Regions from separate parts of the Homo sapiens genome. Here regions 2 and 3 are each linked to region 1. The links come from fine-mapping of genetic effects on gene expression. A gene starts in region 1. Each other region holds a variant in brackets. All regions are shown on one strand. Distances are between the middles of the regions.

Region 1 (10,608 bases):
TCGGCCTCCCAAAGTGCTGTGATTACAGGCGTGAGTAACCGCGCCCAGGCCTCAATTTTATTTCTTAAACATCTCTTGCTTGCAATTGCATCAGTTGAAAATGTCCCACTCTCCATTAAGATGCAAATAAGATTATGTCACTCCCAGGCTTAAATTCTTCCAGTGGCTTTCCTTCGCTTTAATATACACAGTCCTTAGCATGGCATACAAGGTTCTTTGTAATGTCTATATTGATGGTGTACGATCCTTTCTGATACAGATAGTGTATGTATCAGAAATTCATTTCTTCTTTTCTAAAGCCATATTCTCGATTTACCATGCTTGAAGACCATGTGTTTCTCTTGCTTCTGTGCTTCAGTCAAAATAGTTCCTTGTGACTAACAGTCCTTTGACCCTTTGAAAGACATTCCTCACCTTTTCTTAGATCTTACTTTTTTAAGATTCTTCATATCTATGGAGGTATGAGAACACTAATTTCCTTCCTTAGGAGAAATGACTATCAGATTACAGTAGGCCACTGTAAATACTCAAAGACTGCTGGCACAGAACTTACCATAGTCTGAGAGTTGTAGGGGGAAAAGATTATTTATCTCACCTATAAGTCTCACAGTCTATTTATTTATTTATTTATTTAGAGACAGCGTCTCACTCTGTTGCCCATGCTGGAGTGCAATGGTGCGATCTCGGCTCACTGCAACCCCCACCTCCCAGGTTCAAGCGATTCTCCTGCCTCAGCCTCCCAAGTACCTGGGATTAAAGACATGCGCCACCACACCTGGCTAATTTTGTATTTTTAGTAGAGACAGGGTTTCACCATGTTGGTCAGGCTGGTCTTAAACTCCTGGCCTCAGGTGATCCACCCGCCTTGGCCTCCCAAAGTGCTGAGATTACAGGCGTGAGCAACCGCATCTGGCCTTTTTTTTTTTTTTTTTTTGAGATGGAGTTTCCCTCTTGTCATCCAGGCTGGAGTGCAATAGCATGATCTCAGCTCACTGCAACCTCCGCCTCCCTGGTTCAAGCAATTCTCCTGCCTCAGCCCTCCCAAGTAGCTGGGATTACAGGCACAGTGCCACCACACCTGGCTAATTTTTGTAGTTTTAGTAGAGATGGGGTTTCACCATGTTGGCCAGACTGGTTTTGAACTCCTGACCACAAGTGATCTGCCCGCCTTGGCCTCCCAAAATGCTAGGATTACAGGCGTGAGCCACCGTGCCCAGCCTCTCAGAGCCTATTATAAGGTCTGGCCAGAATAAATGCTCAATGAATATTATTGAATGAAAGAAAAATGAGTGAATGTTGATGTCACCTTAGTTGATGGTGGAAGTTGGGATGAAGGACTGTGAGTCAGGAGCCGAAGTCCTGGATGAACGTGAGTGTTTACTAGCTGTGTTTTATGGGGCCGAGCTATCAACATTTTCTTACAGGGAAATTGCCTTGACTACTAGTCAGCCATCATGCAGCCCCCATCCCTGCAGAAATGATTAGGTTGAGTGATTCCATCCCTCTCTTGGCTTGCCAGGGACCCACTACCTGTGTGGACTGATATGAAAAGATGAGCTGGGCTAATGTAATTGTCTCCTGGGATCTGTGAGTTGGGAAACAGATTTAAGCAATTAACACCAGGAGCCGAAGTTGAAAGGCTGTATAAAGAATTGTCAGCCAGGCGCAGTGGCTCATGCCTGTAATTCCAGCACTTTGGGAGGCCGAGGTGGGCGGATCTCTTGAGGTCAGGAGTTTGAGACCAGCTTGGCCAACATGGCTAAACCCTGTCTCTACTAAAAATACAAAAATTAACCGGGCATAGTGGCATGAGCTTGTAATCCCAGCTACTCAGGAGGCGGAGACAGGAGAATCTCTTGAACCCGGGAGGCGGAGGTTGCAGTGAGCTGAGATTGTGCCATTGCACTCCAGCCTGGGCAACAAGAGCGAAACTCCATCTCAGAAAAAAGGAGAAAAAAAAAAAAAGAATTGTCAAGAAATATCTAGCAGAGGTTGCAGAGTGGCCCTGAAACTTATTTTTATAACCTGTGCAATGTTCTGTAATATTTTGAAAGGCTTGTCAATATTTGAAAACAGGGAGATTTCACATGAAAATCTGGCTGTTTGGCGTCTCTCATTAAATCTGAGGTCTGGTATGGCAGGAACTGACTGGAGCTGAGAAGGACACAGGGCACATGCTTTCTGTTCGTCATAGCCTCCACCACCGCATGCTGCTCACACCTGGAAAGTTTCATTGTTTTATATTACCCACTGGGAGCCTCTAGAGGAATCAGTAGCAATGATAGATTGTATGCAAACCAGGTTCACAGGGGAACAGAACCTAGAGGAAAGCAGAAAGGAAAGTTGATGGGGTTGGGCAAGTAGGAAAGAGAGAGGATGCAGATGACAAGAGAGAAAACCAGTCCTAAGAGTTGCCTGAGTTTCTGCCCTTGTCAGTTCCAGTAGTGCCCACAGTCACCCTCATTGTAATTTCCTTTTCTTGAGATAATTTGCAACGCAATTAGCCAGGCTAAGGCAGGGAGTTACTAGAAATTGCTGGATAACAGCAACAAGGAAAGTAAGACAGTGTAAGCCTTTTGCTGACTATGTATCCTGACCAAGGAGTACCAGGGAGGAGAGATTGAACAACCTCTGCTCAAGAGGATGTATGGTCAACAATGTTCTCAGAGGAAATCAGCAGCTTTCTATGAAGAACTATGGGTGTCCAGGGTTCCAGAGGGTTTGTAGAGAGGGACTGAGAAGTTTGGGGAGAAGAAATTTGGAAGACATTTAAAGTTTGGTACTTTATATTCTTTTAGAGTGCAGACTGGGCCTAGTAAGGAACTTTTACTGTGTGTTGAATAGAGAGGTTTGTATTTCGGCCAAGAAAGCTTCCTGAGGGGGTGGCATAAGAGTGGTGTTTTAAAGAGAAGATGAAAGGGAGATTGCTACACGGGCAGACAGAGTTACAACTGCAAAGGCAGAATTCTTAAGGGGAGGGAGGACAGTTAGTAGTTCGGATCTGGCATCAGGCAGCCTGTGTTTGGCCTGAGTCACCTGGTAATTTATTTTCATATGTTGGGACCTTGGTTTCCATTATTATATAAAAATACAAAAATTAGCCAGGTGTGGTGGTGCATGCTTGTAATCCCAACTACTCGGGAGGCTGAGACAGGAGAATCACTTGAACCTGGGAGGCAGAGGTTGCAGTGAGCCAAGATTGTGCCACTGCACTCCAGCCTGGGTGGTAGAGCAAAACTTCTTCTCAAAAAAAAAAAAAAAGATGAGGATAATAATATTGTATTTCTTTTATTCTAAGACCCACTGCTCCCACCCCATCCCACTTTAATGTTTCTTTATTTAGGACCTATCTTAGAATTGACACCCCCAAATGCTTGCTTTATCACAGGGCAAGGAAGAAAAATTGTGACAGTGTTATCACTAACTGGGTATATGCAAATTTAGCCATCCACAGAAAGATGTTCACTTGGTAATTAGCTTAGTTATTTGCCTTTGTGGTGCCATGCAGTTGAATATTAATTTGAACCCCAAAGTGTCACTTTAGGTATCTTCTAAAAGGCTACACTGTGATTAAGTATTAAAATAATAAGTTATTGTATATGCAGATTAGCTGTCACACATCAGGAACGCAACCAAATATAGTAGAGATTGCCAACTGTCTTGGTAAATTTGACATTGAAGTTACAATGTTAGGGAAGGTTGGCCTGACCACTAATGTGCTTGAGGACCCTGAACATTTAACAGTCAATAGTCTGTTTTTAGCTATCAAGAAAAGCTGTGTGGTTTCCAGGAATACACAATTAAAAAAGAAATCAAGTTTATAAGCAAAGAATAAATGAATATAATGCTTCTATATTCTCTGAAATGCCTCAGAATTATACTGTTAATTTTCCTTTTTCCTTTTTTTTTCTTTTGATACAGTGTTTTGCTCTGTCTACCCAGGCTGGAGTGCAGTGGCACAATCATGGCTCACTGCAGTCTTGACTTCCTAGGCTTAAGTGACCCTTCCACCTCAGCCTCATGAGTAACTGGGACTATAGGCATGTGCCTGGCTAATTTTTTGTATATTTTTGTAGAGTTGTAGAGACAGGATTTCACCATGTTGCCCAGGCTGGTCTGGAACTCCTGGAGCAAGGAATCTGCTCACCTCGGCCTCCCAAAGTGCTGGGATTACAGGTGTGAGCCACCATGCCCTGTCTATACTGTTAATTTCTAAAGATGCTAAAGAGATCAAGATATCTCTTGATGGGTTACGAAAAACAGTATGTCATCACGCTATACTTAGCCAGACGGTCAGAAAGTTATATTAAGACTTTAGAAGGCTGGGTGTGTGGCTCACACCTGTAATCTCAGCATTTTGGGAGGCTGAGACAGAAGGATCACTTGAGGCCATGAGTTTGAGACCAGCCTGGGGAACGGAACGAAATTGTTTGATTGTTTTTGAGACAAACAAAAACTTCAGACAGTGAAAGTGAGAGAACTTAGACTTAAGCCCTTTGATTATAGTACTGAAGAGGCAAATGGTACAATTAAAATAGCCAACATTTACTGAATGATCGATATGTGGCACTGTGTTAACCGGACAACTTCATCAGATCTGTGTGTTATGTTCATTTTAAAGTGAGAAAGCTGGGACCTAAATCCAGGAAGTTTGCCTCCAGATTCTCACTCAGAGCCACTATGCTGTTAGAACACCCTGTATATTCATTTTTATAGATACGCCCGTGTTTTTTAGGTTGGCTTAAAAATTACTCATTACATATAAGACATCTTTGTACTTTTTACAATCAATGGCATCTTAAAATGAAGGAGTATGGTAAATACCTGCCGTGAGGATCAGATGATAAGTATCTTAAAGTGCTTCTAGAAAAAGTGTGGATTAGAGGGGCAGGTGTTGCAAGGTGAGTACGATGAGCCTGGTCTTCAGAACCCCACCATGGCAGAACAGTGAAAACCACCAGGAGCAAAGTGTCAGTGAGGGGGAATGCTTTCGGCAGTTTTGAGAGGAGTTCCTCCACACGAAGCACCCTACCTCCCATACCTGCCTAAATCTTTCTATGTCCAACCCAAACGGCAGCTCCTTCAGGAAGTGGTCTCTGGCTATATGAGAAGATGTACATGGGAGCAATTTCCAGATTATGAAGCTATGGAACAAATACATGAAAGATGGATTTTATCACTAAAGTTATCCTCGCTCCTCTTCTGGCCTCAGTTTCTCTAAACTGAAAGGAATAGGTGGCTTAGCCTATCTCTTCCTTTTATAATTTCTGCCTCTAACCTCTTCAGATTTCTGCCAATCTGCTTTGAAAAGCAAATTTCCTTCCTCAGACCTGCAGGAGACTGCTCCTCTGGGCTGGCAGCTCAGCAGGGCGGGGCTCGGGGAGCAGGAGAAGAGGCGGGGGCTCGGAGGGAAGCGCGGCCGCAGCCACGTGACTTCCTTCCCAAGGAACCTCAGCTGCCGGCCTCCCAGCAACCGGTGCGTCCCGCCTAGCGACGCCCGCGCATCCCGGTTGGCCCTCGGGGGCGGTTGTGGCAAGGAGGTGCCCACGGTCGCGCTGCTCATTGGCTCGGGTTGCCGTCGCTCAGACCCGTTGCCCGGGCGCCCGCAGGCGGTGCTGCCGGATGCCCCGCCCCTTGGCCGCCAGGTTCGTGGCTGGCTGGCCGCTGCTGTCACTCCCCGGCCGTTTCCCTGCGGCCAGCGCTCTACTTGGGGCGGGAGGAAGAGGGGCGGGACTGGGGCCTGACTAGTCGTCGCCGTCTTCGCGGCTGCTATGACCAGCGGGCGAGGCGCCCTTCGCAGCTCCGCGCAACGCTAGTCGCGGCCGTGCGCCCGCCGTAGCCGTCTGCGTCCCAGCGCGGCCGCTCCCGCGGCCCCCTCGGCTTTGCCAGCGCCGCCTGCGAGGCGGAGGCAGGATGAAGATGACTGTGGATTTCGAGGAGTGTCTGAAGGACTCGCCCCGCTTCAGGTAACCGGCACGGCCGCCCGGCGTCACCGCGGAGCTGCCTTCCCGGCGCTGGGGGCGTGAAAGCCGGGCCCGCGCACCCGGAGGAGGCCCCGCCGTCCGCTCCTTCCGACGGGGCGAGCGGCTGTTGCCGCCGTTTCCCACCCTGCGAGGGCACTGCAGTCCCCACCGAGCCCTCCCGAGGGGCGACGAAGTGGCGGGGACGGGGACGTCGCCTCTCATTTCTTTCCTTGCCCTCTGCCGGGGCGGAGCGCCCCGAAGGCCGGCGCACCCTCTCCCGCTGGGGGAAATGGGGTGCAGCCGCGCTCCCGAAGTCCCGTCCCCTTCGCGGGCGCTCGCTCTCGCCCCCTTCCTCCTCTGGCTGCTCTTCCTTCCCCCTTCCTTCCGCCCCTTCTTGGTTTCCACCCCCTCCCCACCCCCTCTTTGAGGGAGCTTTCAGGGCATCCTCTTGCAGTTCATTTAGTTCCTCTTTGCGCTTTTCTGCCCCCCTTCCCCGGGGAGGAGAGAGTAGGGGGCGAACTGGGACGCCGACTTCTGCTTCGCGGTGCCCCCGGCCAGAGCGACTCTCCGGAGGGCGCCCGCGGTGGATGCGTGCGGGAATCGCGGGGGGAAGCGCTGTGATCAACCGCATTCCGTGGACCCTAGTTGGTGACTACCTGCTTTTCTTTCCACTTAAGCTCGTTGAAGGGGGCACAGCTGTCGAGAGGTACCGGGCTGAGGGCGGAGGACTAGCAGAAAAGTGCATTTCTGTTTTGAGAACGGAAGTAGGAGGGCCGTGAAGATTGCCTGTGTGTTCCTCTTCCAGCAGCCTCTGCCCAGGAGGGCCCGGATCACAGTCGGATGCTCCCAGTGGATCTGTCACAGAGTTGACATGGGGGCACTCCGATTCACATGGGTTGCCCTTCTTTCTATGTGAGAGGCGGTCGTCCTGAGGCCGTCCAGGACACAGGTTCTTTCTGTTTTGAGGATAGTAGGAAAGTCTTGAGTTGTTTTGGACAATGGAGTTTTTCTAGGTTGCGTTTTACAGTGTATTTATTTACAGGGCTGGTCATAGTCCTTACAAATATAAGGCCTTAACACTTCCGTTAGATAGTGACATTTCTTGAAGCTTCCTCTGAGCACTGGCGTGTGTGTGCCCGCTAATGTCTGGGCCAAGCCTGGATTGTAAATTGCATCCTCTGCCTGGGAACTAACTGTTCTCATCCTTAACACTGTTAATTGGATTTCTTATTCTCCTTTCAGCGAAAAAGAAAAGAATTGTAAAACTAAGGAACTGCTACTTAGAGAAAATTTAAGAACGCTTTTTGCGTTTGCCCTTTGATGATTTTTGGGTATTAATTTTATTGGAGCCTAGGGCTATTATTTAAAAAAACCCACTTCCTTTGATAGCTGTTGTTGCGATTCATTTTTGAAACTTTTATGTTCTGCATTATTGAAGGACTCAAGAGACACAAATAGATTTCCTAGGACAGGCGTGCAGGTTGGTTTCCAGGACAGCATGGCAAGTGGAGTAATTTTTAAAGTGCACCTTAGAAAGTTCAGCTTTTTGTGAAATTTTGTTACTATGACTCAGCTATTTATTTTTAAGTGAAATAATCACAGCATTTTTCCCTTAGAAGATGTAGCTTTGAACTCCCTTTGTTTCACATTAATTTTTTTTTTTTTTTAAGTTGAGAGAAGTGATTTGGAAATACTTCTAGCTACTGGGGTTGGTCACAAACCATGTGATGTCTTTGTTTTTGAAATAAAGAAATCATTGAATATAAAATAAGAGGGCAACATACTGATTAAGTTGTAGGGAATATTATAGTGAACTTTTGTTAAACTTGATTGTAACATAAATTCTATGTTAATTAAAATATTACAGGTTTTCAGGAGTTGTTTCCCATATTCCAATTATTGTTAGCTGCAAATTGGGAAGAGATGCCAAAATTTCAATAACTTCAACATCTTATATACATTTTGGGGACAAATTAGATTTGCAATAGAGGGAAGACTGCCGAGAAATAGAAGTTTCATTATTCATATTCTTAATTTTTTATAGTTTTTCCATAATCCTATTACTATGAGGATCTGTATAGCATTTGAAAAGAATATTTGAGAAGTCTTCATTCACATGTTGTATGTATAAGAAGAGCTTTACTTTTGAGAGTATTGTGTATGTTGAGTGATAGTGAAACTTGTATCAAAATAAAAAGCTTGTGAGGCCTGGGCTTGTTTTTTGGTAGTAAGGCAGCTGCACTTGTGTCCTGATCTATTGGGCTGTCTTTAAATTAATACGTGTCTTTATTCATAAATGAATCTTGTGGCATTTAAGTCTAGTGTGTGCACATAACTGTCTTGGTGCTGTAGAATTAATGCAAAAGGCACATCTTGCTGATGAAAATTTCACCACTGTTCAAGCTTTAAACATCTATTTTCCTGTTAAATCAATGAGGAGAATACAAGGGGACTGGTTGAAATAGGGAGAAGGATGTTGCATTTGCAACATTGTCTTTTGTAATTTGAATAGTCAATGGTTACTTTTACATCCCAGTGAACATTTTTTTTTTGTTTTGGATTGGAGGGCACATTTCGTTGTATAATTTTGGGTTCCCTTTTTGGTTTTTTAAATACCAGTTTAAAATCAGCTTAAAGGTCAAAATCTTGTTCATCTAAAATCTAAAAACCTTGTTCATCTAAAAATCTACAGGAATGTAAAGTGCCTAAGTATACTTTTTTTTGAGTGGAAATTTTGCATTTTGGCCAAAATATGTTGAAGTTGGAATTTGTTTGGGCCCTTAATTGTATGTAGTTGCATGTAGTAGGTCTTTAAAATTTTACAAAACCTCCGTAAAAGTACTGCTTTTCTTTTACTTAAACATACTCTTGGGCTGAACACTGTGGCTCACATCTGTAATCCCAGCACTTTGGGAGGTGGAGGACGGCGGATCACTTAAGGTCAGGAGTTTGACACCAGCCTGGCCAACATGGTAAAACCCCATCTCTACTAAAAATACAAAAATTAGCCGGGTGTGGTAGTGTGCACCTGTAATCCCAGCTACTTGGGAGACTGAGGCATGAGAACTGCTTGAACCTGGGAGGCAGAGGCTGTAGTGAGCTGAGGTTGTGCCACTGTACTCCAGCCTGGGCAACAGAGCGAGACTGTCTCAAAAACAAAAAAAACAAAAAAAACAAAAAAACCCAAAATGTATTCTGTTTTACTTAGGAAGTGAATATCTATTTGAAATAAAAAGTAGAATAAATAAATTGAATAAATAAACATCTTTCTGAATTATGAAAGATTTTTGTCAGCAGTGTTCAAGTATAAAAATATTGTGGCCAGGTGCAGTGGTTCATGCCTGTAATCCCAGCAGTTTGGAAGGCTGAGACAAGAGGATCGCTTGAGGCCAGGAGTTTGAGACCAGCCTGGGCAACAAAGTGAGACACCGTCTCTACAAAAATAAAAAAATTAGTTGGGCATGGTGGCGTGCATCTGTGATTCCAGCTACATGGGAAGCTGAGGCAGGAGGTCAAGGCTGCAGTGAGTTATGTTCACACCTCTGCACTCCAGCCTGGGCAACAGAGCTAGACTCTCTCTCTCTCTCTTAAAAAAAAAAAAAAAAAGGCCTTAGCCTTGGTATGCTTTAGTTTTTATCTGATAATTTATTTTTATCCTTTAACAATGTCTATCATACACCATCCTGCAGGTTTTTCATTTTTAGATTCTATTTCAGATATGATTCTTTTTTTTTTTGAGATAGAGTTCTGCTCTTGTTGCCCAAGCTGGAGTGCAATGGCACGATGTCGGCTCACTGCACCCTCCGGCTCTTGGGTTCAAGCAGTTCTCCTGCCTCAGCCTCCCGAGTAACTGGGATTATAGGCGTGCACCTCCACGCCTGGCTAATTTTTTGTATTTTTAGTAGAAACGGAGTTTCACCATGTTAGCCAGGCTGGTCTCGAACTCCTGACCTCAGGTGATCCGCCCGCCTCAGCCTCCCAAAGTGCTGGGATTACAGGCATAAGCCACCATGCCCGGCTAGATACGATTCTTGTTCAGTAACTTAGAATAACTTTTTTTTTAAAAAGGGTGTTTGTGGGTGAATTATGTTTGAGAGACAGAGTCTTACTTGTTATCCAGGCTGTTCTCCAACTCCTGGACTCAGGTGATTCTCCTGCCGCAGCCTCCTGAGTAGCTGGGATTACAGGTATGAGTCACCATGCCCAGTCAGGTGAAAGGTTTTAATGGGCGAAAGACATTGGAATAAAATGTGACTACTAAATACACCTCAGTTATGTGTTGCTATTAAGTCTGGATTGGTGCCAATCTTGTCTCCTTCCTTTGCCTTCCATCTTTATAATAAACTTTTAGCAACTGCCTGTTAATACAGTGGGTAAGGGCTGAGGGGAAATTTTTTTTTTTTTTAATCTCAGAAGCAGTAGAATGGAATTATAAAGTAATTTTATTATGAACCAAAATACAGGAATCCTGACTGGGTGTGGTGGCTCAAACCTGTAATCCTAGCACTTTGGGAGGCTGAGGTGGGCAGATCAGTTGAGGTCAGGAGTTCGAAACCAGCCTGGCCAGCATGGTGAAACACCATCTCTACTAAAAATACAAAAAAATTAGGTGGGCGTGATGGTGGGCACCTGTAATCCCAGCTAC
Region 2 (10,608 bases), 87 kb after region 1:
ACTGGTCTGTTCAGGTTTTGGATTTCTTCGTGCTTCAATCTTGGTAGGCTGTATGTGTCTAGGAATTTATCCATTTATTCTAGGTTTTCTAATTTATTGGTGCATAGTTGTTCATAGTAGCCTGTAATGATCCTTAGAATTTCTGCAGTATGGGTTATAATGTCTCCTTTTTCATCTCTGATTTTTTTATTTGGTCTTCTCTTTTCTTAGTCTGGCTAAAGGTTTGTCAGTTTTTTAATCTTTTTGAAAAACCAACTTTTTGTTTCGTTGATTTTTGTATTGTTTTCTTCTTTTTAATTTCATTTATTTCTGCTCTGGTCTTTATTTATTTTCTTCTGCTAACTTTAGGTTTAGGTTTGGTTTCCTTTTGCTTTTCTAGTTCTTTAAGATGCATCATTAGGTTGTTTATTTGAAGGTATTTTGTTTTTGATGTAGGCACTCTTAGCTATAAACTTTCCTCTTAATACTGCTTTTACTATATCCCATACATAGGCTTCGGTTTGTTGTGTTTCCATTATCATTTGCTTCAATAAATTTTTTAGTTTCTTTTCTTTTTTTTTTTGAGACAGAGTCTTGCTCTGTCACCCAGACTGGATTGCAGTGGCACAATCTCTGCTCACTGCAACCTCTGCCTCCTGGGTTCAAGTGATTTTCATGCCTCAGCCTCCTGAGTAGCTGAGATTACAGGTGCATGCCATTACACCTGGCTAATTTTTGTATTGTTTAGTAGAGACAGGGTTTCACCATGTTGGCCAGGCTGGTCTCAAACTCCTGGCCTCAAGTGATCTGCCTGTCTTGGCCTTTCAAAATGTGGGGATTATAGGCCTGAGCCACTGTGCCCAGCCCAGTTTCTTTCCTAATCTATTCATTCACCCACTGGTCATTCAGGAGCATATTGTTTAATTTCCATGTGTTTATATAGTTTCCAAAATTCCTCATTATTTCCAGTTTTATTCCATTGTGGTCGGAGAAGATCCTTGATATTATTTCAGGTTTTTTTTTTTTTTTTTTTTGAGTTTCTTACCACTTGTTTTGTGACCTAGCAATATGGTCTGTCCTTAAGAATGATTCATGTGCTGGGAAGAAAAATGTGTGTTCTACACCCCCTCAATGAAATGTTCTTAAATATTCATTAGGCCTGTTTGGTCTATAGTACAGATTTTTTTTTTCTTTTCTTTTTCCTTTTTTTTTTATTTTTTTGAGATGGAGTCTCACTCTGTCGCCCAAGCTGGAGTGAGTGCAGTGGCACGATCCCAACTCACTGCAACCTCTGCCTCCTGGGTTCAAGTGATTCTCCTGCCTTGGCTTCCCAAACTGCTGGAATTACAGGCACGTGCCACCACACCCAGCTAGCTTTGTATTTTTAGTAGAAATGGGGTTTCACCATGTTGGCCAGGCTGGTCTCGAACTCCTGACCTCAGGTGATCGCCCGCCTTGGCCTCCCAAAGTACTGGGATTACAGGCATGAGCCACTGCACCTGGCCTGTAGTGCAGATTAAGTCTGATGTTTCCTTGTGGATTTTCTGTCTGGATGATCTGTCCAGTGCTGAAAGTGGGGTTTTGAAGTCTCCAGCTGTTATTATATTGGGGTCTGTCTCTCCCTTTAGCTTTAATGATATTTGCTTTATATATCTTGGTGCTCCAGTGTTTGGTACATATATAATTATACTTGTTATGTTCTTTTGCTGAATTGAACCCTTTATCATTATAATGACCTTCTTTGTCTCTTAAAAATTTTTTTTTCTTGAAGTCTGTTTTGTGTGATATAAATATAGCTGTTTCTGTTCCTTTTGGTTTCCATTTGCATGTAATATCTTTTTCCATTCCTTTATTTTCAGTTTTTGTCTTTATAGGTGAGATGTGTCTCTTGTAAGCAACAGATTATTGCGTCTTGTTTCTTTATCCATTCAGCCACTCTTTGTCTTTTGACTGGAGAGTGTAGTCCATTTACATTCAATGTTATGGATGAGTAAGGATTTACACCTGCCATGTTGTTATTTGTTTTCTGGTTGTTTTGTGGTCTTCTCTTCCATAGTGTCTTCCTTTTAATGAAGGTGATTTTCTCTGGTGTTATGTTTTCTTTTCTTGCTTTTTATTTTTTGCTTATTTATTATATGTTTGTAGATTGGAGGTTACCATGAGGCTTGCAAATAGTATCTTACGGTAGCAAATCAACACTGATTGCATAAACAAGCCAACAAAAAGAAAACTAATAAAAACACAGTACTTTAGGCCAGGCGCGATGGCTCACGCCTGTAATCCCAGCACTTTGGGAGGCTGGGGCGGGCGGATCATGAGGGCAGGAGATCGAGACCATCCTGGCTAACACGGTGAAGCCCCGTCTCTACTAAAAATACAAAAAATTAGCCGGGCGTGGTGGCGGGCGCCTGTAGTCCCAGCTACTTGGGAGGCTGAGGCAGGAGAATGGCGTGAACCCCGGAGGCAGAGCTTGCAGTGAGCAGAGATCACGCCACTGCACTCCAGCCTGGGTGACAGAGCGAGACTCTGTCTCAAAACAAACAAACAAACAAAAACTCAATACTTTAACACTGTGTCCTCACTTTGTAACTTTTTACTGTTTCCCTGTGTATATTATTGTATTGTCTCTGTTGAAAAGGTATACTCATTATTTTTGGTTTATCTTTTCACCTTTCTATTAATACTTAAGATAGGAGTAGTTTACACAGCACAATTACAGTGTTATAGTATTCCGTGTTTGTCTTTGTACTACTTACTGTCACCAGTGAGCCTTGCACCTGCAGATGATTTCTTCTTGCTCATTAATCTCCTTTTCTTTCCGAGTGAAGAACCTCCCTGTAGCATTTCTTGTAGGACAGGTCTGGTGTTGATGAAATTCATCAACTTTTGTTTGTCTGGGAAAATCTTTAATTATCCTTCATGTTTGAAGGATATTTTTGCTTCATATGCTATTCTAGAGTAAAAAAGTTTTTTGCCAGCACTTTAAATATGTCATGCTACTCTCTCTCCTGGCCTGTAAGGTTTCCATTGAAAAGTTTACTGCTAGATGTTTTGGAGCTCCATTGTATTGTTTCTTTTCTTGTGCTGCTTTTAGAATCCTTTCTTTATCCTTGATCTTTGGGAATTTGATTATTAAACTAATAATGGGTTAAATCTACTTGGTATTCTATAACCTTCTTTTACTTGAAGTTTTGTATCTTTCTCTCAGTTTCAGAAATTTTCTGTTACTATCCTTTCGAATAAACTTTCTATTTCTCTCTTTCTACCTTACTCTTAGATTTGCTATTGAGGCCGTTTTCTAGATCTTACAGGGATGCTTCATTCTTTTTTATTCTTTTTTCTTCTCTGTTTTTAAACAGGGCTCATAAGTCTCAGGAATTCTTTCTTCTGCTTGATCAGTTCTGCTGTTAAGAGACTCTGATACGTTCTTTAAATATCAAGTGCATTTTTCAACTCTAGAATTTCTGCTTGGTTTTTAAAAATTATTTCTTTGTTAAATTCATCTGATAGGATTCTGAATTTCTTCTCTGTTATCTTGTATTTCTTTGAGTTTCCTCAGAGCAGCTATTTTGAATTCTGTGTCTGAAAGGTCACATATCTCCATTGCTCCGATTTGCCCCTGGTGCCTTATTTAGTTCTTTTGATGAGGTTATGTTTTCTTCAATGGTCTTGATGCTAGTGGATATTTGTGATTATCTAGGCATTGAAGAATTAGATATTTATTGTAGGCTTCACAGTCTGGGCTTGTTTGTACTCATCCTTCTTGAGAAGGCTATCCAAGTATTCAAACCTACTTAGTTGTTATTATCTAGGTTTTTGGTCCCTACAGCTGTATCTGCATTAGAGGGCACCCCAAGACTAGTAATGCTGTAGTTCTTGGACACTTATAGAGATACCAGCTTGGTGGTTGATATGGTTAGGCTTTGTGTCCCCACCCAAATCTCATCTTGAATTGTAATCCCCATAATCCCCACGTGTCAAGGGAGAGACCAGGTGGAGCTAAATGGATCATGGGAGTGGTTTCCCCCATGCTGTTCTGGTGATAGTGATTGCATTACATGAGATCTGATGGTTTTGTAAGTGTTTGGTAATTCCTCCTGCGTTCATTCTCCCCTCTGCTGCCTTGTGAAAAAGATGCCTTGCTTTCCCTTTGCCTTCTGCCATCATTGTAAGTTTCCTGAGGCCTCCCCAGCCATGCAGAACTGTGAGTCAATTAAACCTCTTTCCTTTCTAGATTACCCAGTCTCAGGCAGTTCTTTATAGCAGTGTGAGAATGGACTAATACTGTGGTCTTGGATAACATCTGGAAGAATTCTCTGGATTACCAGGTAGAGACTCTTGTTTTCTTCCCTTACTTTCTCCAAAATGAGTGCAGTCTCTCTCTCTCTCTGGCTAAGCTGCCTGCAGCTTGGAGAGGGGTGATACAAGCACTCCTGTCGCCGCCATCGTTGGGACTGTACTTCGTCAGATCTGAAGCCAGCAAAGCACCGTGTCTTGCCCATGTCCTGCTGTAACTATTACCTGGCTGCAAGCTGTGTTCTCTTAAGGCACTCAGGCTATAGTCATTATTTCAAGAGTGGCTGAAGCTAGTCATTCTTGTGTATTTCCCTTCGGGGTGGTGAATTCCTCTGGGCTCCAGGCTCCGGACAGGTTCAGAGTGCCTGGAAGTCAGGGCCTGCAATCGGAAACCTTAGAAATTTCCCTGGCACTGTATTCAACTATGTTTAAGCTGGTACTGAAATCAAAAGACACAGTCCTTCCCACCCATCCCTTTCCTCTCCCCAGGCAGTGGAGTCACCCCCTGTGTCCACCTCCACACAGGCCCACAGGGAGTACTGCCACAATGTTGTCACTGTTCACTTAAGGCCCAAGGGCTCAGCTTTTCATGAATGTCGCCATTCCTGGGACCCACCCTTCAGGGCAGTGAGTTCCCTTCTGGCTTAGGGTAGTTCCAGAGGTGCCGTCCAGTGTTCTCTGGAATCAGGGACCCTACGAACCCACTTGGTGCTCCTCCCAACTATGTTTGAGGTGGTACCTAATCTGCAAGACAAAATCCCCTTTATTTTTCCCTCCCCTTTTCTCAAGCAGAAGGAGTCTTTCCTCGTAGCCACCGCAGCTGTGAATATGCCGGGTCACACCTGAAGTCTGCATGTCTGAGTCTTAGCTGAGGCCCACAGTGTGTGTTACTTGGTTGCTGCTGGTGATTATTCAGGGTCTAAGGGCTCTTTAGTCAGCAAGTGGTGAATTCTTCCTGGACTTGATCCTTCCCTTCAGGTTCCTTCTGGCCCAGGGTGTGTCTAAAAATATCACCCGGGAGTTAGAGCCTAGAATGGGGACCTCACGACTCTGCCTGATGCCTTATTCAACTGTGGCTGAGATGGTATTTATGTTGCAAAACAAAGTCCTGTTTATCCTTTCCTCTCCTCTTCTCAAGGAGAAGGACGGAATCTCTTTTGGAGCTGGGAGCCTTCCTGCCTTTGATTGGGAGATGTGTGACACAAGCGCTCCCTTAGCCGCATTGGCTGGTGTCTCACTAGGTCATGTACCTCCAAGTCCACTGGCTCTGAGCCCAGCCCAGCACTACAACTTGCCTAGGAGTTACAGTCCTTGTGACCTAGCCTGCCTTTTACTGTTATTTAGGACCCCAGAGCACTTTAGCCTGTGGTGGCGAGGCTTGCAGAAACTCCAGTTCCAACCTCCAGGCTGTGTGATTGTCCTGTCCCTGGGGCTGGTCTAAATGCTCCATTCATTGGCATTGGCTGAGTTCTGCCGGGATTGGCAGCACTGCGTTCCGGCTTGTAGTCCCACAGTTGCTGTGCTCTTTCCCCGTGTGCAGCGCAGATTCTTCCTCTGTGCCCTGTGGTTGCTAC[G/C]AGCGCATGGGGGAGGGCTGGGGTCAGCAATTCAAGACTGTCTTTTCTATCCTCTTCACTGCCTCTTTCAGCAATATGAAGGTACTGTGATTGCTCACATGATTTTTGGTTCTTATGAAGGTGCTTTTTGTGTAGGTGGTTGTCAGATTTGGTGTTCCTGCAGGGAGGACAATCGGTGGAGGCTTCTATTTGGCCATATTGCTCTGCCTCCCATTCCAGCTTGTTTCTATTTTTAATTTTTGTTGCAATGGAGTCTTTTGCCTGGCCCTGAATAATATTTAAATAAATCACAAGGACTTGAAACTACAAAATGTATACTTAGAGCCAAAGTCACCTTACTTGTAAGAACTGGAAATGGGGATAATGCTCTCTATGGTTATGCAGCCTACTCTTTTACTAACCTTTCTGGACTAGATCTTTGAAGTGCGTCTTAGCTTTCCTCCTTTCCTGAAGAGAGCAGAGATAGTGCTGCTTTAACTGTGGTCATACATGTATGAGGAATAACTTTAGTGTGAGCTGTTGGTTTTAAAGAGTCATATATTATTCTATGCACTTTTGTAAGTTCATTTTATAATGAGCAGATTGGTCAACTGACATTTTTGATTATTTGTAATACATGTGTTGCTTGGAATAATACTGTTAATTTCCAGAAATATAAGTGAACCTTAGCTTTTCTGTTGGTGGCTTTTAAACTTTTTATGATGGGAAAATGTGTGAATTTTCTCCTGGGAAAGTATAGACTGGAGACTTAGATACCAGTAGATGAATTGAGGAATTTCTGTGTAGCAGTTTAATATAGAAAAGAGTTAGCTGTCCATGAGGAAGGGCTTTAAGAACAACAATAACTACCAAAAAAAAAAAAAAAAAGAAGAAAAAGAAAAGAATTAGCTGTTAGATAGCTGTGGCTTGAGAATTGGCAAGTCAGAGACAGAACTGTTGCTTTATTGACAACATACTTTTCACACTAATGGAAGTATTAAAAGTATATAGCCTACATTATTGTGGCTGGGCACAGTGGCTCACACCTGTAATCCCAGCACTTTGGGAGGCTGAGGTCAGGAGTTCGAGATCAGGCTGTCCAACATGGCGAAACCCCGTCTCTGGTAAAAATACAAAAATCAACTGAGCATGGTGGCACATGCCTGTAGTCCCAGCTACTCAGAGGGCTAAGGCGCAAGAATTGCTCGAACCTGGGAAGTACAGGTAACAGTGAGCTGAGATCATGCCATTGCACTCCAGCCTGCGTGATGGAGTGAGACTCTTGTCTCCAAAACAAAGCCAGTAAATAGTCTAGATTACTGACATCTAATTTCATGAAATACTTGACATTCTATTCAAGTGTATAGAAAATTTAATTTTGGTAATGTTACATTTTAAAGGCAGTAGTATCCAGGATATATGTATGGGCCAAGAGTTCACGATGAAGTTGCTAAGAGCAACTGCAACAAAAGCAAAAATTGACAAATGGGATCTAATTAAAGAGTTTCTGCACAATCAAAGAAACTGTCAGCAGAGTAAACAGACAACCTATAGAACGGGAGAAAATATTTGCAAACTATTCATCTGATAATGCTCTTATATCCAGAATTTATAAGGAACTTAAATTATAAAGAAAAACACAACCCCATTAAAAAGCAGGCAAAGGACATGAACAGACATTTCTCAAAAGAAGACATACATGTGGCTAACACTCATATAAAAAAAGCTCAACATCACTGATCATTGGAGAAGTGCAAATCAAAACCACAATGAGATATACCATCTCACATCAGCTGGGTGAGATACCATTGCTGGGTATATAACCATAGGAATATAGTTCTATTATAAAGACATATGTATGTGTATGTTCATTGCAGCACTATTCACAACAGCAAAGACGTGGAATCAACCTAAATGCCCATCAGTGGTAGACTGGATAAAGAAAATGCATACGTACATATACACTATGGAATACTATGCAGCCATAAAAAAGAATGAGATCATGTCCTTTGCAGGAACATGGATGGAGCTGGAGGCCATTATCCTTAGCAGACTAACACAGGAACAGAAAACCAAATACCACATGTTCTCATTTATAAGTGGGGGAGCTAAATGATGAGAACACATGGACACATACAGGGGAACCACACATACTGTGGCTTATTGGAGTGGGAGGGTAGGAGGAGGGAGAGGATCAGAAAAAATAACTAATGGATAGTAGGTGTAATACCTGGGTGATGAAATAATCTGTATAACAAATCCCTGTGACACCCGTTTACCTATGTAACAAACCTCCACATCCTGCACATGCACCCCTGAACCTAAAAGTTAAAAAAAAGTTGAAAAGCAGAAAAGAGAAAAATGTTCTGCTTTTCTCTTTGGAATATAATGATGTTTTTTTAACAACTTTATTAAGGAATAATTGACATAAACTGCATAGTTACAGCATACAATTTGATAACTTTTGAGATCCACACATCTCCATGAAATCGCTACAAATAATTTAGTGAATATAACAATCATGCTTTAAAAGTTTTTCTTTGCCACTTTGTAATTTCTGTTTCTCTCCCTTCTTCCCTCATTCCTAGTCTGTCGTGAATCTGCTATCATTATTGGTTTGTTTGCATTTTCTAGAATTGTATGTAAATGGACTTTTGTAGTCTAGTTTCTTCAGTGTTATTTTGAGGTCCAATTATATTGCATGTTTCAGTCCTTCATTCCCTTTTTATTGCTCAATACGATTGCATTGTATGGATTTATCACAAGTTTTAAAATCCATCTACCTGTGGATGGTTATATTAGCTATCTACTGCTGTATAACAGATTATTTGAAAACTTAGTGGCATGAAACAACATGCATGTATTATCTTACAGTTTCTGGGCCAGGAATTTGGGAGTGGCTTAGTTGGGTGACTCTGACTCAGGAATTTCATGAGATTGCCTCAGTCTCTGGTCCTCTGACCAAGGATCCTCTTTGCAGGGATGCTTGAGTGTCCTTATGACATGAAATCTGGTTACTGCTAAAACAAGTGATCCAAGAGCAGCATGGGCAAACAGGAAGCTCCAATGCCTTTTTTTTTTTTTTTTTTAAAGACAGAGTCTCACTCTGTCATCCAGGCTGGAGTGAATGGCATGACCTTGGCTCATTGCAACTTCCGCCTCCCAGGTTGAAGCGATTCTTGTGCCTCAGCCTCCTGAGTAGCTAGGATTACAGATGTGCGCCACCACACCCAGCTAATTTTGGTATTTTTAGTAGAGTTGGGGTTTCACCATGTTGGCCAGGCTGGTCTGGAACTCCTGACCTCAAGTGATCTGCCCGCCTCAGCCTCCCAAAGTGCTGAGACACTGCATCTGGCTGGAAGCTTCAATGCCTTTTATAACCTGGTCTCAGCAGTCACACATTGTTACTTTCTTCATGATACTGTTTGCTAGAAGTAAGTCACTCCATCTAGCCCACACTCAAAGAGCAAAGAATTGGGGCTGCTTTTGAAGAAAGCAGTGTTAAAGAATTTGTTGTCATATTTTAAAGCTACCGCAATGGACTTTGGGGTTGTTTTTAGGTTTTGGCTATTACAAATAAAAATGCTTATTAAAATACATGTAAAAATCTGTGTAGGCATATAGTTTTATTTCTTTATGTGAATAGCCAGGTGTAAAACGGCTAGTTTGTAAGATAGTGTTATGCTTAAATGTTTACTATTTTTAAAGTGAAGACTGTAAGCCATTGCTAAGAGAAAATAAGGAAATATTTAATTTCTTTTATTTATTGTTTATATTAATTTTTAATACAGTCACGCATCATTTAACAACAGTGAAACATTCTGAGAAATGTGTTGTTAGGTGATTTCTTCATTGTGTGAGTATCATAGAATGTACTTATCACAAACCTAGGCAGTGTAGCCTCCTACACACCTAGGCTACGTGGTGTAGTCTATTGCTTTTACGCTGCAAACCTATACAGCATGTTTCTGTAATGAATACGTTAGGCATTTGTAACATAATGGTAGATATTTGTGTATTTAAACATAGAAAAAGTACAGTACAGATACAGTACTATAATTTTATGGGACCACCGTTATATGTGCGGCCTGTCTTTGACCAAAATGTCATTATGCGGCACATGACTGTTTTACATTTCTTTAAAGTGTTAATATCTGTAAAGAAATTAAAACCTACACAAATGTTGTTTTGCAAAGTGGATTGTGCTATTTTACATCAGCAGTGTACAAGAGTGCAGGGGTTCCACATGCTCAGCAACACTTGGCATAGTCACTTTCTAAAATTGTTTATGGTTTTAATTTGCATTTCCTTATTAATAAGTAATGATGTTGAGCATTTTGTTTCTTTGCCATCTATGGATCTTCTTTGGTGAAGTGTCATCTTTTGTTCATTAAAAAAATGGATTTAGGCCGGGCATGGTGGCTCACGCCTGTAATCCCAGCACTTTGGGAGGCCGATGCGGGCGGATCACGGATCAGGAGATCCAGACCATCCTGCCTAACACAGTGAAACCCTTTGTCTACTAAAAATACAAAAAATTAGCTGGGCGTGGTGGTGGGGGGCGCCTGTGGTCCCAACTGCTGGGGAGGCTGAAGCAGGAGAATGGCGTGATCCCGGGAGGTGGAGCTTGCAGTGAGCTGACATCACGCCACTGCACTCCAGGGTGACAGAGCAAGACTCCGTCACACACACACACACACACACACACACACACACACACACACACACGAAAAAGAAAAAATATGGATTTATTGGCCTGGCGTGGTGACTCACGCCTGTA
Region 3 (10,608 bases), 170 kb after region 1:
TATCACTGTACATTTTTCTATCAAATGCTTTGGTTGCTTGTTTTATTGAGATCCTTTTTTGGTTTTCTTAGCAATAGAATGAAAACCTCAGAACTCTGGGTAAATTAAATGCAGGTATTTTTAATCTTTTGATAATGAAGAGCTCTTATCCTTTAAAAGATTCAGATGTAATCTTTGGCAATCACTGATTTATTTCTAGGAAACCCCACTTGTGAACTTTCTATCTGTACAACCCTAGGGACCTGGGACTCCCTGTTTCTTGCGTGGGGTGATTGAGAGCACACGTTTTCTTCAAAAGAAGGTGTGTCTCTCTTTGGCAGTCCCAGTAGCCCTTAGGAGACATGGGTGGGTGAGGGAAACAGCACACTCTTCTCTCAGTTGTTGGAAACCGGTTTGGTGGTTCCCACAGTCTCTGGCTCTGTGACTCTTCTTGATCGTTGGCAGGCTCTCAGCCAGTTGAGAATCATCACTGCTTTAGGGACCCGCTACTGGTTATGTGAGTATGTAGCAAGCACAAGTTGGGAATCGCTGATCTAAGTAATTATGAAAGTAAGCTGTTACCCACCCAGAAGGGGTAAGGTCGTGCATAGGATGACCTGGGGTGGGTCTCATGTGCTGCCGTCCCTGTGAGGTGAGGGGAGTACATTTCAAGAGCAAAATTAGCAAACTCTTGAATCATCATAACTGCTGTTGTGGTAGATATTCTGAATACCAAAAATTAAAAGTGAATTTAAACTGTCAGTGGAAACACAGCAGTCTGCATTTTAAAAACTTAGAGCTGTCCAGGCACATAGAAAAGTTAACTGTCTGAGGGGAAATAGAATGTGGTTAAGTTTAAAGAATATGCTTAGTATTATAAATGTTGAGTGATGAGTTGTTTACCATTTATAATAAACTGTTAAATGTATTTCTGGGAACATTCCATGGCAGCATATTCTGGGTTGTTGTTTATGTGTTCCAATGTAGACAAATTATATTTGCCTTGGGAAAAATTCTAAGTAATCAAAATTATATTTAAATATTAAAAAATCACATTGAAGTTCAATTTGTGTTAGCTGTATTAAATATCTTGGTCACTATTGTTCTTGTAACATTTGCTTTTGACAACACATTTTGAGATCTAAGAAAGGTAGTACATTAACAGTGCATTAATTAATGTTTTGTTAGAAACTAAATGTTAACAAAAAGTTTTGTGTGTATGTGAAGGTGGCAACTTCCTTTTGTATTATATTAACACTTTTTAAATGTATTCAGTCAGTGAAACCAATGATTATTATAGCACCAACACTTTCATTCAAGGAAGCATTTGAGTCTTATAATTTGTTTTGCATGGTACAATGGTTCTACTAAAATATACTTGTGTAATAGGTACTAGATGATTTAAAAACAAAACCGGAGAAACCATTTAAAAAGTTCCATAGCTTGTTATACAAAATATGCATTGCTAATAGTAGAAGCCATATATTGCCATTGTACTGTTGTAATACTTAACAGTGCTCATCTGGTGCTACCTGTAGACTATTTGGTATTAACGTCTGCTAGACCCTTCTTCCTATTTCTTCTTGAATGTATAATGTGTGCCTTTTAAGTTACTTCTAGTGTTGAATGGTAAAATCTTTGTGGTATTTTTGTATTATACTCTGCACTTTACACTTTCTTGGAAAGGAAAATTCCAGACTATCCAGTTTAAATAGTCTTTTAAAAATATTTATAATGTTTACAATAAATATTTTACATATTTTAATTCAACATCTGCAAATTAGAAAAAATATTTTATATGGTTTGTTGCTATTTAATGTTGCTCTATTTATTTTCTATCTTTTAGAATGGTTAAAATGAGAATAGCAATGTTTGTCTTTTGATGTGGAAGTGAACTTTTACAAAACCATGGGTATAATTGGATTGTCTTACCAGCTGTTCCAACGTATCAACCTTTTATTTTAGTCATGTCAATATGAGTTAGATGTTACTCTCAGCCACCTGTTAATAATCTCTTCTTACTGTTTTTTTCTTTTTAAAGTAGACTGATGAGGTTTAATTGATTGATTCAGGTCGGGAATAAATTTCCAGGGCTAAATGAAAACTATATAGAGATGTTAATAGTTGCTTTTTACCTAGACTAAATACAAAAAGTGACTAGAAAGTATTAGATTTTTTTTCCTTTTTTTTCTTTTTTTGAGGCGGAGTCTCGCTCTGTTGCCCAGGCTGGAGTGCAGTGGCGCGATCTTGGCTCACTGCAAGCTCTGCCTCCCGGGTTCACACCATTCTCATGCCTTGGCCTCCCGAGTAGCTGGGACTACAGGCGCCCACCACCACGCCCGGCTAATTTTTTGTATTTTTAATAGAGACGGGGTTTCACCGTGTTAGCCAGGATGGTCTCCATCTCCTGACCTCGTGATCCGCCCGTCTCGGCCTCTCAAAGTGCTGGGATTAGAGGCGTGAGCCACCCGGCCGGGCCAAAAGTATTAACATTTTTTTAATTCAAAATCTTGGCTTATGCTGTTAGACCTTTTTACTAGATCTTTACTCCTATCCTCAACTTTTTTCTAATTCTCTAGCTTTTGGTATGACATCTCTTGCTTCAAAAATCTCACTTTTTAAAAACTGACAAAACTTACTGCACTATTAACAACATCTGTAGCAATGAGTGTGTTATAAGGTGGATGCAAGGTATCTTATAGGAGATAATTTTAAAATGTTACAATAATAATCAAAAACAGTATTTTATGGTTGAAATCTTGAGAACAGAATTATGCCAAGCATTTGTATAAGGCTAATGTTTAGCAGGAAGCATTCATGATCAACGATTTATCTTGAAAATAAGATTCCTTCGTCTGAGGGATTGATCTGTATGTGTGTGTATATTTAGTTTCTCATGACAAGAAAAATGGTATTCAGTCAGCTATAATATCAGTATCTATAATCTATTTCTCGGTAAACATATTTGTACATATACACGTTTATTTTTCTAATTTAACAGATGTCCTTGGTATTTATTTGCATTTTGTCATAGCATTCTTGCTCATATGACCTGCAGTAAAACAAAAACAAACCCAACTTTTAAATGCAAAACTGATTTTAAAGCCATTTTCTTTTTTTTATTTTTTATTGAAACAGAGTCTCGCTCTGTTGCCCAGGCTGGAGTGCAGTGGTGCGATCTCAGCTCACTGCAACCTCCACCTCCCGGGTTCAAGCGATTCTCCTGCCTCAGCCTCCCGAGTAGCTGGGATTACAGGTGCCCACCACCACGCCTGGTTACTTTTTGTATTTTTAGTAGAGACAGGGTTTCATCATGTTGGCCGGGCGGTCTCAAACTCCTGACCTCAGGTGATCTGCCCGCCTCAGCCTCCCAAAGTGCTGGGGTTACAGGCATGAGCCACCACACCTGGCCTTAAAGCCATTTTCTAGGATTTTGTTGTTAATTTTTGTAGAGATGTAGTCTCGCTATGTTGCCCAGACTGGTCTTGAACTCCTGGCCTCAACCAATTCTCCCCCCAACCCCCCCACCCAGCTTCCCAAAGTGTTGGGGTTATAGGCGTGAGGCACTGCACCCAGCTAGATTTTTATTTTATGAGTTTAGGAAGCAGTGGATTAGGTGCATTAGTTTTAATTACGCATTAAAGTTTGAGTAAAAAATTACTTTTTCAAATTGCTTTTAATTAAAAGATAGTATTATTTTTCCCTATCTGATTATCAGTTTGTCTTGATTATCAGTTTGTCTTGTTAATAACTTGCATCCATCCAAAACATTAGTATTTGGTTTTAGTCATTTCTTTTGGCCTTTATCAAGGGAAATATTTATTTAAAGAAGGTCTCATTTACTCCACCTCATTTAGAATGACTTTTCCCCCCCGTGTGTTAATAAACGTATTTCTTTACATTGCTTTAAAACACTTGCATCTTTGCTCTTTTCTAACTCTGAGCTTTCTTCTGTGGCTGCATCTGAGGTGCTTTTTTCAGGTATAGTTTTTTTTTTTCTTTCATTGCATAATTTTTCAGCATTTATTTTTAGTTGCCCCTTTTCTTCCAAAAATGCTCATCTGAACAAAATTTTAATGTAATGAATTATAAAATAGTACTAGTAATAAATATGAATGTTGTTTGATTAATACTTGTGTAAATGTTTAAAGTGTCTTTATTTTATTTCATGCAGGTGATGAAACTTATCAGGACATATTTCGTGATTTTTCCCAAATGGCATCCAATAATCCAGAGAAACTAAATCGTTTCCAGCAAGATTCACAGAAATTCTGAATTTTTTTAAAAATGGGAAAATATGAAATCTGGTGACCCCCTAATGTATACAGCTAAAAAATCACAATTTTTTTACTGCTTTAATTCTACTTAATTTTGGTAGATATTGAATGGCTTGGAAAAGAGGTACCCATTCATATATTTATAAATTAAAACATAGTTATCTAGTAGTAGGAGAGGAACCTAGTTTAGGACCTCTTTTATTAAAAAAGCCTATTTAAAGGGCTATTTCTGTAGACAGAAGTTCAGTCTAGATTTAGGCCATCTCTAGGTTACAAGATGATAGGAGGTTAGACAAAAGTGATTCTTTTGCCAATGGGTGGTGGCATTGATTTTTTTCCTCCATGCATCTTGCCCAGGATCACTCAGTCAAGCATGTCTTCATCAAGTGGAAGCCAACTGTCCTGCCTGCCTCAAGAATATGTGTTTTCTTTAGCTTCCCTGAGGCTTTTTGGTGGTTCAGAAATAGGTGTGTGTGTTGATGTGTTTTTGGTAACCTAGCTTTCATACACATAATATATGATTTATTAGAACTAGAGAATGTGTTTTCCCCGTTTGTTCATAAATGCGGTCGGTTATACTTCTTAGGTGACAGGTTATTGTCCAGTACTTTAATGTATGTATGTATAATGGCTGTACAGGTAGACCATAATTCAGTCCTTTAGATTTATTTTATGCAGCAAAAAGAAGCTCTTTTTTTTTTTTAATCACAAAAAAAAACCCCAGTTCAAAATGTGTAGTTCTTCATTGTTGGGTTGATTCCCCAAAACCTTGACAGATGTATCGATGGAATAAAAGTATGTTTTAAAGGTTACTTGAATGTCACAAAATTATGCCTTCATCAAAACTTTAAAGGAAAAATCAATTTATAAAATCATGTAGGCCATTTTTATATTTGAAATTTGTCCTTTTAAAGATAGTTTTGCTGTTGCTCCTAGTGAAAGAAAAATCTCTGTACAAAGGAGAAAAAGAACCCCACTTATTCTTAGTTAATACTAAAATATATAGCAATAAATTGCTGTTTATTTTTTCTACATCTATTTTGTGTACTTGTACACAGTGTACATTCTTTTAAATTATATCGTGTATATAGCTTTAGTATTCGGTTACATGATTCACAGACCCCTGAATTCCAAAATATTATGGATAAACATTACCATTTATATGCTACAAATTAGTCTGATTCCATCTTTGAAAATGTCTTAAAGTATAAAATAATTAATTTGCTTTTTTTTTTTTTTTT[T/C]CCCGAGATGGCGTCTTGCTGTGTCACCCAGGCTGGAGTGCAGTGGCACGATCTCAGCTCACTGCAGCCTCCTCCTCTTGGGTTCAAGCAATTCTCCTGCCTCAGCCTCCCGAGTAGCTGGGACTACAGGCACCCGCCACCATTCCGAGCTAATTTCTATATTTTTAGTAAAGACGGGTTTCACCATTTTGGCCAGGTTGGTCTCGAACTCCTGACCTCAGGTGATCAGCCTGCTTTAGCCTCCCAGAGTGCTGGGATTACAGGCGTGAGCCACCGCACCCAGCCTAATTTGCCTTTTGATTCCTTCCCATTGTTGTCAACAATTAAGTCTATTCTTCTTTTAGAAATTATATGTAAATGATATTATTGATACTCTTTCTAAATAAGAGGTTTTAAAATATATAAAAACTTTATGATCCAATTATAGATAAATTTTCTAACATTTCCCAGTCACTAGGGTTTTATAAGTTGATTAAACATCAAATCAGAATCTAGCCAAGCAGGAATTATATTGAAATAAGTTCACATTACAGAAAAGGTTCCATAATTTGGCCAAACTGCATGCATGTAATGCTTATTTAGTAATGGTCACTGTATGTTAGATAAGGATAAAAATATATTTGTGAATTACTTCTGAGGAAATGCTAACTTCCACAGCATTGTATTTAATTATAACAATAACAGGAACATTAAATCTTTATCTTTGCTGTTTCACCTCAAAGTCATAGATCATCTGGCTTTTTAGGCACCTTCACTAAAGGCAAAAATCTGATTTGTAGTTTTTATTAGCATGTACCTTGAAATTATTTGACCAAGAAGCTCAAAGAAAAGAAGTACGTTAAAGAAAAAGAAAAAACCTCACTTTTCCTTTATAGTGTCCCTTCCTGTTTTAATTCCTAAAGATCCTGACTTTTATCTGAGGAAGTCTAGGTAGTTTTCCTTTTGGATCTGGCCATTGGTGCGTGTTTCATTCAGATCACCTCTGGAATCTCTGTGGTTGTGAAGGCAATTCCTTATGAGACTCTTGCCTCCTGTGGCTTACGTGATGAATTGTTAATATGGCAGTAATTAATTAGTATCTACTTAAATTTAGTGGTCAGAAATGTATTTGAAGTGCCTTAAAGATGATCATGGTTCAGAATATCTTCAGAGAAAGCAAAATCTTTAATATTGCAGGGAGCCTAGCAATACAAGTACACATTTCTGTGGCTTGATTTCTTGAATATGCTGAGACCCAATTTGGACTACATTTGGCAGAAATGATGGAGTAAACAGCAAGGCTTTAAATTAAATTAATAGTTACAAGGTAGGTTGGCTCTTAGGTGAATTTAGCCATGTCAACTAATAGCTTTTATATGGTATGTAACAAATCTGAATTATGTTATGCTGTGAATTATTCAGTGCATTATAAGAAATCTTAGTTAATCATGCTTTTGGGCTTCATTAGTCAATGTGATTGGCCTTTTATTTTCTTTCCATAACTTATCTGCTATTATTAGTTTCTTATTCCTTATTATTAATCTGTTAGCTCATTATCATTAGCTTACTAACTTGAAAGTTAGATTAATATCAAAATAAGAATAGCAGCACTATGAAGAGTTAATAAAATGCAATTTCATGTTAGAGCTAGAATAAAAGTAATTGAGCAGTCATTTGCAAATGCTTCATTATAACATTTATGTGCTTAAGATTTCTAAGGTTTTAAAAAGTTACCTTTAATACAATCCTTAGAAACTCAGAAATTTCCTGATATTCATTAGATTATGGTGTTTGCCTAATTTATACCGGTTTTCACTGTATATTTTAATGAACTTTGATTGGTTACTTTTCCAGACATACAGATTTAATTTGGAATATGAACTTTGGTTCTTCATGAGTGCATTTTGAAAAAGAAAAAAAGTACACATTCAGAATCTGGCCAATTTAAGTTTGTATTTTAAAAATATTTTATGCATGTTAAGTATGGTCGCAGTAAATGAAATTGTGTTTAAGACTAAATTTACTACCGTTTTGAACAGACATTCCCAGATCATTCTTATATTGTCAGATAACACTTGTGTATAATATCACTTTGGATCATGGACATGAGCTGGAAAAATGATGTATTTTTGTAGATTGTATGTCCAGAATGACTTTAGAACCGCATGATACGGTGGAAGGAGCACTGGACTAGTCGTCACTACCCTTTTTGGATTCAGGGCTCCTCACAATTAAAATGAGTGTAATGAAACAAGGTGAAAATATAGAAGCATCCCTTTGTATACTGTTTTGCTACTTACAGTGTACTTGGCATTGCTTTATCTCACTGGATTCTCATGGTAGGATTTCTGAGATCTTAATCTAAGCTCCAAAGTTGTCTACTTTTTTGATCCTAGGGTGCTCCTTTTGTTTTACAGAGCAGGGTCACTTGATTTGCTAGCTGGTGGCAGAATTGGCACCATTACCCAGGTCTGACTGACCACCAGTCAGAGGCACTTTATTTGTATCATGAAATGATTTGAAATCATTGTAAAGCAGCGAAGTCTGATAATGAATGCCAGCTTTCCTTGTGCTTTGATAACAAAGACTCCAAATATTCTGGAGAACCTGGATAAAAGTTTGAAGGGCTAGATTGGGATTTGAAGACAAAATTGTAGGAAATCTTACATTTTTGCAATAACAAACATTAATGAAAGCAAAACATTATAAAAGTAATTTTAATTCACCACATACTTATCAATTTCTTGATGCTTCCAAATGACATCTACAGATATGGTTTTGTGGACATCTTTTTCTGTTTACATAAATTTATCCACTTAAAATGTGATAATGTGGAGACAAAGCAAGATTTGATTACATAAACTTTTCTCTGCATTGGTCTTTTCACTATCTTATTTGCTAACTTTTCTTATTTTTCTTCAACCTCCCCACCCTCCATTTTTTGGATATTAAACAGGGAAAGCTTGCTACATTATAAAGATTGTTGGCACCATTTATTTTACACAAAGGCTAAAGGTTAACTTTTGGAAATGATGAGCTACTTTTATATATGTGTTTACTCATGCTTTGTGATATTTCTGGATCATTCCAGTCATAAAGACTTATTACATGTACTATTTCTTGCTACCTGTGAAAAGGTATATTTTAAAGAATGTATAACCAACAGTCCATTTACTTTTTATTAGTATGTAGAGGATTTGTATCTAATTCATGAATGTAGTTTTACAGTAGTTTGTCATTGTAAATGGAGCAAAGTACATTATCTTCTAAAATGTACATTATGTAAGAATTGTAAATATACTTAAGTAATTTGTATGCCAAAAAATTACAATAAGTCAATAAAGATCTCACCTCTGGCTTAGTTCTTTCATGGTGATTTACATTTTCTTGTGAAATACACTGTGAACATATCTGTCAACAGCAGTTATTTTTAAGGTACTATTATTTTTAAGGTATTTCTTCCCAGCCCTTTCAAATCCACATTCATCCTATTTGCTGATTACTTCAATCAAGAAATCCATTTGGATCTTTTAAGTATATAATTCTCTTTGTTCACAGAGCTGTTATAGCCCCTAATTCATTGGCAAAAAGATAAAAGGTTTTTTTTGGGGGGTGGGGGGAGGGGCTTGCTCTAAGTTTTTTCCATTATGATTGACATTAATGTTCCTAATCTATGCAGCACATTCCCATTTTATCCTTTTAGTAAACAGACACACACACGTTTGTCAGTGAATTGGGACTGAAGGAATGGAAGGTTGAAAAAACCAAACTGGAAGTGTATCACCTGCATTTGCTTTAAAAAAAAAAAAGCTAATTGAAAGCAGACACATAAACTTTTCAATATAACTTGCTTTATTCAGCTTCATTTCATTTTCAGAATAGTTCTGTGGAGAACCCACATCAATAGTCTATAAATATTTTAAGTGAAAACAGTTTAATTTTTCAATTATTGCAAACACAAAGCTTTTTGCTTGTGGAGAAATGTTAAGAAGAAGCAAGAGAATCATCCACAATTCCATTATCTTGTGCTGTCCAAAATGGAACTCACTAGCTACATGTGGCTACTTAATTGGAATTAGACAAAGAGTTCATTTCCTCAGTCGTACTGCTACATTTTAAGAACTTTATAGCCCCATGTGGCTAGTGACTATTGTTTTGAACAGGGGAGATTGTAGAATATATACATTGTCACAGGAAGTTCTACTGGATAGCACTGAGGGAGATACTGTTACTTTTTTGTGTATACCCTTCTAGACCTTTGGGTGTGTGTATTCATACATTTATATAATGGGATCATACAGTTACCCACTTCTTTCACTTAATAGATGGGGAGAACTTTATGGGAAATTTCAAGCATGTACAGGTAGAGAAAATCAATAGCTATAAGCTCATGGCTTATATTTGTTCTCCTACCCATTTTTCCCCTTTCCTGGACTTTTTGGAACCAGATCCTAGACCTTTCACCAGCAAATCATTCCGTATGTACATCTAAAAGTTGAGGACTTTAAAAAATCGTAACACTTCTTAAACTGTAAAACTACATAATCAATATTCAAATTGGTTTCTCAAATACGATTTTTAAAATAGATCGTGCAAATCAGAATTCACATAAGTTCCATACGTTGCAGTTGGTGAATATGTTTCTTAGTCTCTGTAGGTTTTTTTTTCCATTTGTTACCATTACTATTTTTTTTTTGGAATTGGGGTCTCGCACTGTCATCCAGGCTGGAGTCCTGTGGCGATCGTAGCTCACTGCAGCCTTGGACCCCTGAGCTCAAGTGATCCTCCCACCTCAGTCTCCCACATAGCTTGGAGTACGGGTATGAGCCACCTCACCCATTTGTTAGTTTTTTAAATTTCCACCTGCAGTTTGTTGAAAACATCACTTTTAATGACTGCATTATTTTAGCTTTAACCACTTTATTGATGACCATTTGATTCTGATTTTTTGCCATCATGAACCTAGCTTTGCTTTATTTTTATGTTTGTTTTTTGAGACAGGGTCTCGCTCTCTTTCGCCAGGCTAGAGTACAGAGGCACAATCTCGGCTCACTGCATCCTCTGCCTCCTAGGTTCAAGCGATTCTCTTGCCTCAGCCTCTCGAGTAGCTGGAATTGCAGGTGTCCGCCACC

Evidence for each region.
Region 2: its variant is fine-mapped to the expression of ACAP2 in putamen (GTEx, PIP above 0.99). The same link has a PIP of 0.9 or more in amygdala, anterior cingulate cortex, caudate, cerebral cortex, hippocampus and hypothalamus.
Region 3: its variant is fine-mapped to the expression of ACAP2 in whole blood (INTERVAL, PIP above 0.99).

The regions. Positions count from the first base shown.
Region 1 is chr3:195,438,153-195,448,760 of GRCh38, reverse strand. ACAP2 (ArfGAP with coiled-coil, ankyrin repeat and PH domains 2) reads left to right here and starts at 5,741. Exons shown (of 23, transcript NM_012287.6): 1 at 5,741-5,966. The coding sequence starts at 5,914. RefSeq lists silencers at 5,377-5,876, 5,997-6,216, 6,237-6,286 and enhancers at 5,698-6,197, 6,737-6,826.
Region 2 is chr3:195,351,390-195,361,997 of GRCh38, reverse strand. The region is part of intron 4 of ACAP2 (ArfGAP with coiled-coil, ankyrin repeat and PH domains 2); the gene reads left to right. Among named protein-coding and RNA genes, the nearest start is that of XXYLT1, 86 kb to the right of the region's middle. The variant G/C (reference allele first, on the strand shown) is at 5,850.
Region 3 is chr3:195,272,974-195,283,581 of GRCh38, reverse strand. It overlaps ACAP2 (ArfGAP with coiled-coil, ankyrin repeat and PH domains 2), which reads left to right. Exons shown (of 23, transcript NM_012287.6): 23 at 4,154-8,837. The coding sequence ends at 4,254. Among named protein-coding and RNA genes, the nearest start is that of XXYLT1, 7.1 kb to the right of the region's middle. The variant T/C (reference allele first, on the strand shown) is at 5,498.